Linked DNA regions of Homo sapiens: region 2 is reported to be linked to region 1. The links are microRNA targets in miRTarBase. Many come from high-throughput screens and were not tested one by one. Region 1 holds a microRNA gene; the other region holds the end of a gene's coding sequence.

The links. Region 1 holds the annotated microRNA hsa-miR-876-3p (UGGUGGUUUACAAAGUAAUUCA, at 3,414-3,435, opposite strand). A microRNA usually pairs through its seed, bases 2 to 8, with sites in the 3' UTR of a target mRNA and lowers its output. Matches are read on the target gene's strand: a 7mer-m8 pairs with bases 2 to 8, a 7mer-A1 pairs with bases 2 to 7 and ends in A, and an 8mer does both.
Region 2: miRTarBase lists ZFP14 as a target of hsa-miR-876-3p. Seed matches in the 3' UTR shown: 7mer-m8 at 2,280-2,286 and 7mer-A1 at 3,445-3,451.

Annotation. Positions count from the first base shown.
Region 1 is chr9:28,860,223-28,868,754 of GRCh38, forward strand. It overlaps MIR876 (microRNA 876), which reads right to left and starts at 3,484; the gene lies at 3,404-3,484. The region is part of intron 2 of LINGO2 (leucine rich repeat and Ig domain containing 2); the gene reads right to left.
Region 2 is chr19:36,333,427-36,341,169 of GRCh38, reverse strand. ZFP14 (ZFP14 zinc finger protein) reads left to right here. Exons shown (of 5, transcript NM_020917.3): 5 at 1-6,717. The coding sequence ends at 946. Among named protein-coding and RNA genes, the nearest start is that of LINC00665, 5.6 kb to the right of the region's middle.

The DNA.
Region 1 (8,532 bases):
TGACTGCACCATAGTGCCCAGATATTTGGTCAGACATTATGCTAGATATTTTTGTGAAGGTGATTTTTGGAAGAGAATAACATCAAAATTGGTACCCTTTGAAATAAAACAGATTTCCCTCTATAATGTGGGTAGGCCTCACCTATAAGTTGAAATCCTTAATAGACAAAGACTGACCTTCCCCATGCTTGAAATAATTTTGCCAGAAGATTAGATTGCACTTGGACTTGAACTGCAAATCTGCCCTGAGCCTCCAGACAGCTGCCCCATCTCATCGGATTTTGGACTTGCCATGCTTCCACAATTATGTGAGCCAATTACTTATGATAAATCCCTCTCTCTATAGATAGAAGAAAGATAGATAGATGGATAGATAGATAGATAGTCTTTATTTCTCTCTCTATATATAAAGATGCATATATATAATCTGTCATGTATAGTCATATATATATTTCATATATATATATATATATGCATAATCCACTTCTAAAGAATGAAACATAACAGGACAAAATGCAGTCAAAATGAATACAATAGATATAGTCAATGATGATGCAAAAGCAATTTCCGAAGTCTGTATCACTGTCACTTAGTTGTACAAATGTGTCACTTAAGAAACTAAAGGTCAGAAGTTTTCAGAGTTCTGACAGTCTTGTGGTCATAGCATTGAAGTTAAATAAGACTTAAGCTCTAGCCTTATAAATAAAAAAAGGTAAAAAATAATATATATAATATATTATATATCATTAATATATAAATCTATAATATATTATATTTATTAATATATAATATAATATATTATATAATACATATTATTAATATATAAATGTATAATATGTATTATTAATATATAAATATATAATATAAATTATATAAATATATAAAATATATTTATATAATATAAATTATATAAATTTTTATATAATTTATATTATATAAATATATAAAATATATTTATATTAATATATTTTATATATTATATATTTTTTATATAATATTATATAAATATATAATATATATTTTTTATACAATATTATATAAAATATATAATATTTATATATTATATATTTTATATATTATATATTTTATATAATATACTATATATAATATATATTATTAATATATATACATATTTAATATATATATACACACAAAAATCTTGTTGGTTCTGTTCTCTAGAAAATTCTCACAGATAACATTCATTTAAACATATCTATTCTCATATAGTTCTCACAGAAATTAGGGAAGCTTGATATTACCTTGTCCATAACAGGAGACCTCAGGTTCACTTTGAACACATGTTCTACTCATAACTGCACTCAAGCATGAGTATCTAGTGAGATTGTGTTGCTACAAAAATAAAATAAAATAAAATAAAACAAAATAAAATAAATTAGCTGGGCATGGTGGCAGGCACTGTAGTCCCAGCTCCTCAGGAGACTGAAGTGGGATGATTGCTTGAACCCAGGAAATCAAGGCTGAAGTGAGCTATGATTGCACCACTGCACCCCAGCCAGGGCAACATATGTTTTTTGTCTCTTACCAAAAAACACAAAACCTACACTAAAAATTAATTCATTGTTTGTAAACCTGTATTTATCTTAAAAATAAAAAAAGCGGTAGTGAAATAAATATAAAGAAGTTGGGATTAAAATTAGGATACAAGGATATAGGTACATGATTATGAGATATGCTTATTAGTCCATTAGCACATCCCATTATATCTCCCGTAAACTAAAAATTATCTTAAGAAAAAATATTGTGACTTCCTTCTAAATTCATATATCAGCAGTTCTACATATTATCATTAAAAACATAAGCTTCGGCTCAAAGGAAATTTTACAGGTGCCCCCTTTCATAAAACAGAAAAATCAAAGAGCTCTAGGACAAATTAATTTCAGAAACCTGTCTTCTCAGACTCTTTTCCCACCTGTCCTCACACATCAGCAAAGTAGCACCCAACAAAAGCACAGGAAATCCCAGAGCTCTGTGGATTTTGCTTATGAACATACAGTCCTATGAAAAATAAGGTTACATATGTATCAGACAAGGAATGGTAATAATAAATACTGAAGAATTAAAGGCTAGGAAATAAGAATAACATGTTTGTATCATAGTTCAAATTAAATTAGAGTAGCAAGATATTTCTTAGGTAAAGCATTTCCAATCATATTTATACACATATATTTTAAGGTTAAAAGTATACATATTGATTCATTCTTTTGGTCATTTATATGTTGAAAAATAATATACTGATTTTCTTTTATCTAACAGAAGGGCTTAAAAATTAGTATGCTAATTTATTTAAAGTCACCCAACCTTATAGAGCATATGCATAATCCACTTCTAAGGAATGAAACATAACAGGACAAAATAAAGTCATAATGAATACAATAGATATATTCAATGATGATGCAAAAGTAATTTCAGAAGCCTGTACCACTGTCACTTAGGTGTCCAGATGTGTCACTTAAGAAATTAAAGGTCAGAAGTTTTCATAGTTCTGACAGTCTTATAGTCATACCATTGAACTTAAATAAGACCTACGCTCTAGCCTTGGAAATAAATAAAAAACGGTAAAACCAAAATGACTATTTGAAAGCTTAATCAGTTATTAAAATAGTTAATCATCAATTGTTTGATTTATGGTCAGGGATAATCCATTCTTGGTAATCCTGATGACAGAAATGACCACAAAGTTCCATTTATTTTAATAAGCAATTACTAGTCAACAATTAGGCTTTTGTGACCTTGTAAAGGTTACACAATCTTTTCTGTCATAGAATAGGACTATAGATACTGTTTCCAGAAGAGTAAATGAAAATGAATGCCCAGTGAATACCTAATTTTAATATATGCCATCAAAATGTACAATTTGGTATGTTAAGGTGATTTTTTTTGCCCACACCAATGTTTTTCTTGTTAAAATAAAATGTTGCTTTTTACAAAAGTACTGCATAACAATGATGTCTTCAAGCCCCTGATCATTTACCAAACTATTTAATTAATATATTAATTGGGCATAATAATCCAAATAAAATATGATATTTAAACTTCAAAATGGTATGCTTAGGATTTAAGGGGCTGATTCAATTAATGTTTCTGATGTATCATGTTTTTTTAACCAAGAAATATTACAAATTACTTTTCAAAAAAAGAACAGTAGAGACAGAGACAGCAACTATGTAAAACATGTATATTTAGGTAAAGTAACCATAATTTCTGGTGTGTTTGACACAGGTTTGATCACTGTTAACACTAAGCACCAAATAGAAGGATTCTAGAGTATATTTACCAGGGATCTCTTGACTTTGTGTGTCTTGTAATACAAAGTGGCTTGTTCTCAATGGCTCAGTAAAGGAATCTTAGGCTTCATGGTGTAGATCAACTGCAGAAGCACCTGTGAAGCACTATGAATTACTTTGTAAACCACCACCACATTAGCTTAGATATGGTGATTCACAAAGAAATCCACAGCACTTCACAGTTTGTGTAAAGCCTGGTACCTATGAACCAACAAAAACAGTACCCTTTGGCCACCAAAAGTTGAGGAAGTATTTCCATCTAGTTCACAATCAATTGAAGAATATGCTCAGTTTTGCACCACCCTCTTTTAGCTGAAACACACAAGAAACACTGAACATTTATTTTAAGTAAATAAAACTTAAAAATAAATGCATGCTTTCTATATTATATACCAGTAAATTTCATTTAAAAGAATTCCTAATACAATAACTAGCATGACATTATGCAGGATGAAAAAACAGGGTTCTGCTCATCAAAATAAAAGGGCATGGTTATTAATATAGATGTCAGGAGTAGGGAGTAGAATAAATAATAAAACTATATGTAATTCTCACATCCATATCACAGTATATAAGTGTTGCTGGGATAATTTGTTCTAAAGATATCCTCAGTTACTTAGCTTCCCACTTTATACTCATATAATCTCATATCCTATGACACAAGCTTACCAATGTTACAAATCTGCCCTTGTACCCCTGAACTTAAAATAAAAGTTCAAAGGCAATCATTAAATGAGTTTAACCTGAGTGTTTTTTCCTCTGATATTTGTCCAAGTAAGTATTTTTTCATATGACTGCTGAAGTCCAAGAATGTTTATAAAACTAAATTCTATATTATACATATTAGGTTCAACTCTGAAAGAAAACCACACCAATAAAAAATGAAAAACAAACAATAAAGTTACTCTCCTTTGCAAAATAACCAGAATCCCACCTTTTAACTTTTATCTAAAGAGCAAAAAGAAAGGTTTCATTTATAATTAATGAAAAGAATCTATAAATCTTCCCAGCCTAGTAAGCATAATATCAATCAAGTAATTCATGCTTTTGAAAATTTCAACATTTTTCAAAGTAACCATCAAATGTCAACATTAATTAAAAGTTTGCTTTATAGAAGCTCATGAACATAAGAGTCCTAGGCAGTTCACCACTGTCAGTGTAGGTCACTGCTCAGGAATACCCTACTCACCTCCACCAACCACACATATAACAACCAAGCCAAACTTGCTAAGTATCTGAATAATTAAAAATATTTAAATAAAAAATTTGTAGAAAATATGTATGTATGAAAAAAAAATATTTGTTTTGCGCTTATCATGTGCCAGGCATAGTCTTGGTTAGATGCTGGGGATATAAAAACTCCAGGTTTCAAGAAATACAAAGGAGAAAACAAGAATTTGAAAAAAGCAGTAATAGGTGTTATGAAAAGTTTCCATATAGGGCTAATGGAGACATGGAGAGGCCACTTAATTCAGTGCTAAGAGCGTTGATTACAGATGTCTTCTCTAAGGGAATACCATATATAAGAGAACTGAAAGAGTAGCAGGAATTAGCAATGAGAAGGGTGGGGTAAGTGTTCTAAGCAGAAGAGAACACATATACCACGGCCTATCCAAAGAAATAACGTGATTTTTATTTTATTTTTTGGTATACTATAGCTGAAAAGGAAAACTGCTGCTACAGTTAGAGTAGGTGAACACAAGTGAGCATCACCAGATCAGAGGCAGCAGGGACAGAAAAATTTGAAGTAAGAGAACTCCAGAATAATGAGGCAACCTGTCTGAAATATGGGCAGAGTAAAGGAGCAGTTATACAAAGGTCCTCCAGCTCTTCATCAAGTGTCACACTCAATCCCAAACTGGCCCAGGCAAAACCTCTTGAAGAATCAGGCCAGTTTCCCCAGTGAAATTCAGGCATACTAGTTGGGTGGAATACATTTAGAGTTTGACATGGGTTTAAAAACAAATCACCCTGGCCGGGTGTGGTGGTTCACGTCTGTAATCCCAGCACTTTGAGAGGCCGAGGCGGGAGGATCATGAGGTCAGGAGATCGAGACCATCCTGGCTAACATGGAGAAACACCGTCTCTACTAGAAAAATACAAGAAATTGGCCGGGCATAGTGGCTTGCGCCTGTAGTCCCAGCTACTCGGGAGGATGAGACAGGAGAATGTCTTTAACCCGGGAGGCAGAGGTTGCAGTGAGCCAAGATCGTGCCACTGCGCTCCAGCCTGGGTGACAGGGAGAGGCTCTGTCTCAAAAAACAAAACAAAACAAAGAAACAAAAAACAATCATCTCAACTTAAAGAGATCTTAAGTGGCTCTTTGAATAACCATTCCAATCCAAATGTAAAATTAAGTTGATCCAATAATAATAGTGAAATAATCCAGGGTGTGTTTTTACAATATTTTATACCTCTTGTTGCTATTCTTTCACTAAACAAGACAAATATGCTCTCCATATGTAGCACTCTATGTTAGTCGGGTACTTGGCTTTGCTTGGTTTGTGAATCTGAATGCAAGAAAACTTCATGCAAGTCCCTCTTTAGACAGCATTCAGCTAATTTAGAAAATTTTCCCACATTTTCTGTCAAATATGCTCTCTATTTTATATAAGTAGATAAATGATATGCACTGAGAATGAAATGTTCTGGTTGAACTAATTTTCCGGTGCACTGATTATTAGAAAACACCATTTTTTCAAACTCTTGCACTATTTAACTTCAAAAATAGGCAGTTATTTTATAATGAATTACCATATTGAATGCTTTATTGTATTTTTTTAAGGTTATCCAGAACCCCTGTGTCATTTTCTACTTGTGGTCAACATCTCTGTTAATAACCGTGCATCAGTTATTCCATCTATGCTTGTGATTTGAAAAATAAGGTCCCTAACCCCAAAGGAATTCAGAGTACCACGGGGCATACAAAGTGATTCTGAATCTGCAATTAGGAACTATAGCATAAACCCTATAATCAATGCTATGAAAGGAATATTTTCCAAGTTCTAAGGCTGCAGAGAGGAGGAAGGCCAACACCCAGGGCACCCAGGGCAGAGAAGAAGGGTGGTGTGAATTAGACTTAAGTGCTACACAATATGGTACATTGCAGGCAGTTACAGGATATGAAGTAGATTGATATTTTTGCTTTTGCCAAAAAATTCTGAGTGCTGTTAGTGTGAAAATCACTAATGTGAGCATGAATTCATATAATTAACTTTATTCTCTTACTCTTCTATCACCGGGGGGTAAATTCCAGCTAATGGAGAATTCTTTTTAATTGGGCTCCAACTAGGCATCAGGTTTATTAGAGGACAGACGTCGTTGGTGGGGTCTTAAAGTGAGTAACTTAGTTCTGATTCAAAAGTATAAACAGAAATTTATTCTGTACTATAGTTTATTTTCTAGATTCATCCTTATTTCTTAGAATCTTGTATCTTACATTTTTCAACCCACACAAGCAAGAAAACTGAAATAAAACAAATAAGGTAGAGATAATATCAAAATACAGGCCATAATATCAGCTCTATTTAAAATAACTACTGCTGGTGACAGGAAGTAAAACAGCTGCAGAACTGACAGAGGAATCTGCAGTTAAGGGCTAAATCACACCACTAATATGACAAATGCTGCTGGTAAACTGAGTGGGAAGGCAAGTTCAGAAGGAAGCCTGCATCCTTTCCTGGTGATGAAAGCTAAAAAGAATGAAAATAGTAGAGCAAGTAAAATAATACAAAATAAAAATAGAACAGGAAATGAAAAATGCATATACAGTAAATACAATCCTCCTACTGGTTATTTTTTTCTCCCTTTTCTCATAAAATCTCTCTTTTGCCCTGAAATATTGAAAATAAACAATGCAAGTCAGGGTATAAAAGCAAGTGATTGCTAACAATAATAAGCAAGTGCTAGCCATAGCTGAGCTAAATATGTGGCAGGCTCTATGTCTTTCAAGTAAAGAAAAAAAAAAAAAGAAGACAAACTCTTACCCCTACTGCACCAATGTAAACATTTGCCATAAATTACAGAGAATCACAAAGTTATTGGAATTTTAACTATTTTTTAAAAAGAAAAACTTTCATTATCAAGCACCCATAAAGCATGTGTATTACTTCATTTATTTCTGATTTCTGACAACAGACAACACATAATCCCTGCCTTCAACACGTGGCAGTTGAGGCACACAAAAAAGTGTAATCTGTCCAAGGTTAAACAAATGTTTAAATAACAGAGCTAGATTTGTCTAAAAGCTCATGTTTTGTCTTTGCCCCATAACGTCCCAGTATGCAACATTACCTATAGTGTTTGTGAAATATATAGAGAAAAGAAAATTAGGTAAAAACATAAAGTTTGAATTATAAATTTTACACAGAATCAAATATACATTTGCCCTACAATGAAACAATTCTTTTACCCAAAAATAATAAAACATATTAATAATACTTAAACATTTTGTAAAAGCATCCAGTTTACTTAAGACAAAGTTTTCAGGATTTTATGTAAAATATCCATTTATACAAAAATAGATAATATCTCAATTACAAATCTTTCCTTTCTTACTCATTATAGGTGATCCCTAGAGGCTTGGAAGAATGTTGTTAACCTAGTGTGTGTCGTTAACTTTGCTTACACTTAATAAAGTCTCCTGCCTTCAGAAGTATACTATGACTTATTTGCCTTCAGCTGAATATGCCTTTCTGTGAATAAGTCCTCATTGATGACATTTGATTTTATACTCCAGGAAGTATTTTTCAGTCATTGAAGGGTTTAGTTCACTGTCAAAGATCATTTGTCTAAGCAGTAATATCTAGAGATCCAGTTTATAAAGTGGACCTCTACATTTACTCAGAGACTACATAGAATAGTGAGTGAGTGAGTGAGCATGTGTGTGTGTCTGCATGCATGTGGTTATGTGTGTATGTTTTCTCTTTTGTTCTCCCTGCTTCAAGATTGATGCCTTTCGAAAGTGGCATCATGGGTAATTTTCTGTCATCTGAGAGATAACTCATCCTACTTCAAATCTGTCCACATAATAGTCCAGTGTTTTGTAGGTAAATTTAATTGTTTAGTTATTTGAAGAGAATAAATGAGTGCCCCTTTGGAAAGGGAATGAGAGAACAGAAAACAAATAAGCATTTTAAAAACATGTAAACTTTCAGTGCTTATTATTTCTCTCATTAATGAAAATCTTATATTTGGAACAGCAGTTCAGCTGAGTAACTGCAAACAT
Region 2 (7,743 bases), not on the chromosome of region 1:
CAAACTTCACACCGGTGAGAAACCCTATGAATGTAAGGAGTGTGGGAAGGCCTTTACAGTGCTCCAAGAACTTACTCAACATCAGAGACTTCATACGGGTGAAAAACCCTATGAATGTAAGGAATGTGGAAAGGCCTTTAGAGTACATCAGCAACTGGCTCGACATCAGAGAATTCACACTGGTGAGAAACCCTATGAATGTAAGGACTGTGGAAAGACCTTTAGACAGTGTACACACCTTACACGCCATCAGAGACTTCATACTGCTGAAAAGCTCTATGAATGTAAGGAATGTGGGAAAGCCTTCGTATGTGGTCCAGACCTTAGAGTACATCAGAAAATTCATTTTGGTGAGAAACCCTATGAATGTAAGGAGTGTGGAAAGGCTTTTAGAATATGCCAACAACTTACTGTTCATCAGAGTATTCATACTGGTGAGAAACCCTACGAATGTAAGGAATGTGGGAAGACTTTTAGATTAAGACAACAACTAGTTCGCCATCAGAGAATACATACTCGTGAGAAACCCTATGAATGTATGGAATGTTGGAAGACCTTTAGTAGTTACTCACAGCTTATTTCACACCAGAGCATTCATATTGGTGAGAGACCCTATGAATGTGAAGAGTGTGGAAAGGCCTTTAGACTGCTCTCACAACTTACTCAGCATCAAAGTATTCACACTGGTGAGAAACCTTATGAATGTAAGGAATGTAGAAAACCTTTTAGACTGCTCTCACAACTTACCCAACATCAGAGTATTCACACTGGTGAGAAACCTTATGAATGTAAGGAATGTGGTAAGGCTTTTAGACTTTATTCATTTCTTACTCAACACCAGAGAATTCATACTGGTGAGAAGCCCTACAAGTGTAAGGAGTGTAAGAAGGCCTTTAGACAGCATTCACACCTTACTCAGCATCAGAAGATTCATAATGGAATTTAATAGAAGAAAGCCTTCAAATGTATATGATGTTACAGAACATCAGAAAATTCATTTTTGAGAAAATGTGTTTCATGCTCAATTCCAAGCATAATAAATTTTATATTAGAGAAAGAATATGTTGATTTAAAAGCCTTCCAACACCATTTAAACATGGTTTATCTTCAGCAAATTCCTATGAGAGAATAATGTAATGAATGTAGGAAAATCTTTAGCCTTATCTGTCATTATCTCCCTTTCTCCACTTGATTACCAGTTTGATTTATTGGACAAGATACTAAGCTTCTGTGCCTCATTTTGCTGACTTGTAAAATGGTAATAATAGTACTTATATGTATTAGTTATTTATTGCTGCGTAATAAATTACCACAGACTTAGTAGCATAAAATAACATATAATTATATCTTATAATTTGGATCAGGAGTATAGGCATGACTTAGTTGGGTCCTCTGCTTCAGGGTCTCTTGCAAGGCTACAGATTTCAGCCAGGGCTGAGGTCTCATCTGAAGGCTCAACTGGGGAAGGATCCACATCCAGACTAACATAGTTGTTACCCAATGTATTTCCGTGAGGCCTGTTGCATTGAGATTCTCAGTTTCTAGCTGGCTGTTGGCTGAACGCTGACTGCAGCTCCTGGCCACAATAGCCTCATCAACATGGCTGCTTGCTTCATCAAGGCATGCAAGCCAAAAGGGAGGACAGTCTGCTAGCAAGATGGAAGTTACCATCTTGTGTAATCTAATCATGGAAGTAACATTCCCTCACCTTCTACTGGTAGAAGTAAGTTACTAGGATAGTCCACACTCAAGAGAACGGGATGATACAAGAGTGTGAATAAGTCCTGGAGACAGGACCACTGGGGGGCCTGTTTAGAGTCAGCCTGCCACACTGTGGAATAGGATTGTTGCAAGGAGTAAGTAGTTAATACTTGGAGGAATCACAGTCATATAGCATGTATTCTGTAAATATTATCTGTAATTGTTATTATTGTCATTAGTATTAGTGAATTCACGTAAAAGGAAGATCTGTAGACATAATAAATGTAGAAATGCCTCCTGTCACCTCTCAGAAATTATTAAACATAATTTATTCTAGGTAAAATTTAGATTGTAGTGAATGTAGGAAGTTCTTCAGCACTTGAGCTGCATTAGAAATTTCATGCCAAAAATGAATTTCATGAATGTGAGGTCACTAGTAATACAGCTGTTGAAGAATTAGAGGGAAATAGGAAATGATTTTCCCATAATTCCAGAAAGCAAAAGGCTTACAATCCCTGTTGTCTGACCACAGTTTAAAATTAATTAGAAACTATCAAAAATGTGGCTTAAAAGAAATTAACCACCTAGGAATTTAATATTGTTGTGTATATTTATGTGTGTGTATAAAACTCCTGTGGGAAAGAAACAAAACATCATTCTATAAGTCAGTATACTTTTGGATGCTCAAAATGCCATATCTTCAACCAGTAGGAGTTGTTTCAAGTTGAGTTTTTGATGTGATCCCACCAATAATTTGATAGTTTACTTGATTGTGGCTGCATAATTTGGTAACCTATGAAAGATGCTAGAGCACCAATGTATAATTTTTTTGAGACAGGGTGTCACTTTGTCCCCCAGGCTGGAGTGCAGTGGTACAAGCACAGTTCACTGTACCCTGTTCCTCCTGGGCTCAAGTGATTCTTCCACCTAAATTTTTTTTTTTTTTTTAGAGAAAGGGTCTCACTATGTTGCCCAGGCTGGTCTTGAACTTCTGGGCTCAAGTGATCCTCCCTCCTTGGCCTCCAAAGGTGCTGGGGTTACAGGTATGAGCCACCACACCCAGCCCAACTCATTATTCTTGAAATCAATAAATCAGAGGAAAAATTGTCATTTAGTTTCCTTTTCCCATGTGAACCAAATTTCAGGGTCACCAGAAGTTCATCAAATTCAAATGAATTTGGCCTGGCACAGGGGTCACACCTGTAATCCCAGCACTTTGGGAGGACAAGGTGGGTGGATCACTTGAGGCCAGGAGTTTGAGACCAACCTGGTTAACATGGTGAAACCCTGTCTGTACTAAAAATACAAAATTTAGCCAGGCATGGTGGCACACACCTGTAGTCCCAGGCTGAGGTGGGAGGATCACTTGAACCCAAGAGGCAGAGTTTGCAGTGAGCTGAGATCGTGCCACTGCACTCCAGCCTGGGTGACAGAGTGAGACCCTGTCTCAAAAAAAAAATTTGTTTTTTGAATGGGTTTTTCTTTTTTGAAGAAGTCTAATAAATCTAGAAGGAATTAGAGGATTAGAAAAATCACCATTTTCTAGACCTTAATGGAATAATGGGTCCAGAAAACATGATCTTCAATGGGTACTACAACTAATAGGTGAAATATTTTATAGCGAGATTTTTATGGTGGATCTATCAAACTGGCCACCTCTGAACCCTTTGATCTGTTTTAACCTTAATAAAAATGGGTCTATCAGACAACACACTTCCTGACGTAATGCAATAGGAAGTCCACACCACCATCTACAAAGCCTTATTGCTGGAATAATGAACTGAAAGCAGACAGGGACTAGATGAACAGTATATGGTCATCCCTTGGTATCCATGGGGAATTGGTTCCAGGATCCTCCACTGATGGTAAAATCTGAGGATGCTCAAGTCCCTTGTATAAAATGGCATAGTATGTATTTGCATATTACCTACTCACATCTTCCTGTATACTTTAAATTATCTTTAGATCACTTATACCTATCACAATGTAAATACTATGTAAATAGTTGTTATACTGTATTTTTCAATTTGCATTATTTTTATTGTATTTTATTTTTATTGTTTTTTTTTGAGTATTTTCTATTTGAGATTGGTTGAATCTGCACATATGGAGGGCTGGCTATAAAGGGCACCACAAGGAAGAAGCCAAACAGATCCAGAATGTGTGAAATTCTACAGAGCAAATTACCTGATTTCTTCAACTAACAGGTAGCATGAAAATACAAGGGGAAGGGCAACCATTAACAGATTAAAAGAGACTTAAAGAGACATATCAACTAAATTCAGTATGTTGGCATTACTTGGACCTGGTTTGAACAAAACATAAAAAGCCATTTTGGAGACAGTGAGGGAAGTGTGGACATGGACTAAATATTAAATGATATTTACATATATTAATTTGGTTAGGGATTATGTCAGTGTGATTATAAAAAATAAAAGATCGTATGATATGAGATACATACTATGAAATGAAGATAGACACATTTGGATTAAAATATTCTAGCAAAAGAAATAATTGGCAAAGAGAGCTGGAAACTAAATTGGCAACATGTTGATAATTTAAGTGGAGTGTTTTGTTCATGGAGACTTATTGTTCTAATATTTCTACTTTTGTATGTGTTTGAAATTTCAATAATAAAATGTTTAAAATCAAAACCAAAATTATAGACTATGTAGAAATGAATGACAGTGAGATGCCTGCACATCTAACCTTGTCAGATATAATCAAAGTTCTGTTCAGTGACAAATTAATGCCCTGTAATGTGGTAAGGAAATCTTATTTGTGGATACAGTCTTCATCTTCTTCACTTACCCACAGCAGCAACACCAGGCCTGTCACACAGATGAATGTGTTGAGGGAATGAATAAGTATTTCCGTCAAGAAAAAGGAAACAACAAAATAAAACCAACCCAAGTAAAGAACAGCCAAGTGGCCAGGTGCGGTGGCTCATGCCTGTAATCCCAGCACTTTGGGAGGCCATGGCAGGTGGATCACCTGAGGTCGGGATTTTGAGACCAGCCTGACCAACACTGAGAAACCCCATCTCTATTAAAGATACAAAATTAGCCAGGCATGGTGGTGCATGCCTGTAATCCCAGCTACTTGGGAGGCTAAGGCAGGAGAATCACTTGAATCCAGGAGGCGGAGTTTGTGGTGAGTTGAGATCGCGCCACTGCACTCCAGCCTGGGTAACAGAGCAAGAGTCTGTCAAAAAAAAAAAAAAAAAAAAAGGAACAGCCAAGTAACAGTAGAAAGTAGAAATTAAGAGAATGGAGAATATTAGACTTGATTCAATGTTAATAGTGATTAGATTTTGGCAGTTATAATCAAGGAAGAGAAAATGAAAGATAATACATTTAGAGTATTAATGATGATAAAAGAGACACAACTCTAGATTATATCAAGCAGATTTTTAAAATTATAAGGCAAAACTAGGCCGGGCACAGTGGCTCACACCTGTAACCCCAGCACTTTGGGAGGCCGAGGTGGGTGGATCACTTGAAGTCAGGAGTTCGAGACCAGCCTGACCAACATAGCAAAACCCCATCTCTACTAAAAATACAAAAATTAGCCTGTCATGGTGGCGGGCACCTGTAATCTAAGCTACTGGGGAGCCTGAGGCAGGAGAATTGCTTGAACCCAGGAGGCAGAGGTTGCGGTGAACCAAGATCACGCCACTGCACTCCAGCCTGGGTGACAGAGTGAGAACCTGTCTCAAAAATAATAAACATAATATGGTAAAACTATACATGCACACATGCACAAACGTGTATATTCATTCCAGTACAAGTAAAAATGTAGGATTGCATTTTTCCCCCAAAAGGAATATGTTTTACAATTAACTCACCGTATAACCCAAATAGATTAACAAAAAATGTGTGTGTGTGTGTGTGTGTGTGAACTCCCTGTTTAAAAAATCTGATACTTATAAAAACTTTAAGGAATAGATAATCCTAAAGATTTTACCAATTAATTCTGCAAGGTAAAATAATCCTAATAAAAATTAGATGAAGATAGTTTCTGAAAGCAAATTCTAGACCACCTTCATTATGAAGATTCTATTTTTCACAATTCTAAATAAAGTTTATTTAGAATTTATTACAAAATCTATCTTTGCTAATAGGTCAGTGTTTCTTTTCCCAAGCACCAAATACCTCCAGAAAGCCTGTGTTTGACCCCTAAATTCAACATTCTCCAGAAGTTTGCTTCAAGGAATATTAATTCTCGATGGTATTTGAAAAAAAGATTTCTTGGGAAAATAGGCAAATGAAGCAAAACATAAAACATCTACTTTTGGCCAGGCACGGTGGCTCACGCCTGTAATCCCAACATTTTGGGAGGCCAAGGCGAGCAGATCACTTGAGGTCAGGAGTTTGAGACCAGCCTGGCCAACATGGTGAAACCCTGTCTCTACTAAAAATACAAAATTAGCTGGGCGTGGTGGCTTGCACCTGTAATCCCAGCTACTTGGGAGGCTGAGGCAGGAGAATTGCTTGAACCCAGGAAATGGAGATTGCAGTGAGCTGAGATTTTGCCATTGCACTCCAACCTGGGCAACAAGAGTGAAACTCAGTCTCAAATAAAATAAAATAAAAATCTACTTTTGAGGAATTCAAAGTATACATGATCAGTTTGCCAAAGATTTAGTAAAGACATTTTTATTTAACTGAGTGTATCTCAAATTTATTGTGGAATTCTCAGTCCGAATATCTGGAATAGGAACAGCTTTGTTAGATGCTACCATAACCACAATGAATGTCTTCAAGGGTGTAATTTTAGATATGGTGAGTGGTTGTGTTGGGGGCGGCATAAGTCAGGGCAATTTTTTGCAGCTCATATCATGCTCTGAAAGTAGCTACCTGCTTTAATGGATGGTTAGTGCTTTTCTATAGAATGGAAAAGATTCCAGCCCGATCCTTGATATGTTTGTGTTAAACATGCTTATATATTATATTAAACAATGATTAAGGACATAAATGAGTTTCTGTGGTAATAAAGATGCTATATTGAATATCATTTTGTGTATTTTTTAATTTCCTTAAAGAGTCAAGAATCTAAGGTATTACCTAGAAATGAAATTGTTCGTTATAGGCTGTATACACTTTCAGCTTCACTGCTTATTGCCAAATTGTGGCTCCACCATTGTTCCAGTTTTGAATCCCTTTGATCATTGAATATCAGTGTTCATATTTCCCTACCTCTGCTATAAGTTTCAATATTTATTACACTGGGCCAGGCACGGTGGCTCACACCTATAATCCCAGCACTTTGGAAGGCCAAGGCAGGAGGATTGCTTGAGCCCAGAAGTACGAGACCAGGCTGGGCAACATGGCAAAACTCCATTTCTACAGAAAATACAAAAATTGGTTGGGTGCGGTGGCATGTGCCTGTGGTCTCAGCTACTTGGGAGGCGGAGGTGGACGGATCACTTGAGTCTGGGAAGTCAAGGCTGCAGTAAGCTGTGATCATGCCACTGCACTCCAGCCTGAGTGTTGGAGTGAGACCCGGTTTCAAAAAAAAAAAAAATTATTACCTTGATTACAAGTGAGTCAAGCATCTGTTCATATGCGTTTATTGGCCAATCGTGTTTACTGTGCTTTTTAATGATGCCTTTGCTGTATTTTTTTTTGCATTCTCATTTATTGATTTTTCAGGATTCTTAAAATAGTTTAGTATCGGTCGGGTGCGGTGGCTCACGCCTGTAATCCCAGCACTTTGAGAGGCCAAGGCAGGTGGATCACCTGAGGTCAGGAGTTCAAGACCAGCCTGGCCAACATGGTGAAACCCCATCTCTACTAAAAATACAAAAATTAGCTGGGCGTGGTGGTGCTCACCTGTAATCCCAGCTACTCGGGAGGCTGAGGCAGGAGAATCTCTTGAACCCAGGAGGCAGAGGTTGCAGTGAGCCGAGATCGCGCCACTGCACTCCAGCCTGGGTGACAGAATGAGACTCCCTCTCAAAAAAAAAATTTTTTTTTTAGGTATTGATCATTTTAGGTATTAAACATTTATAACCTGACCTCAAGTTATCTGCCTGCCTCG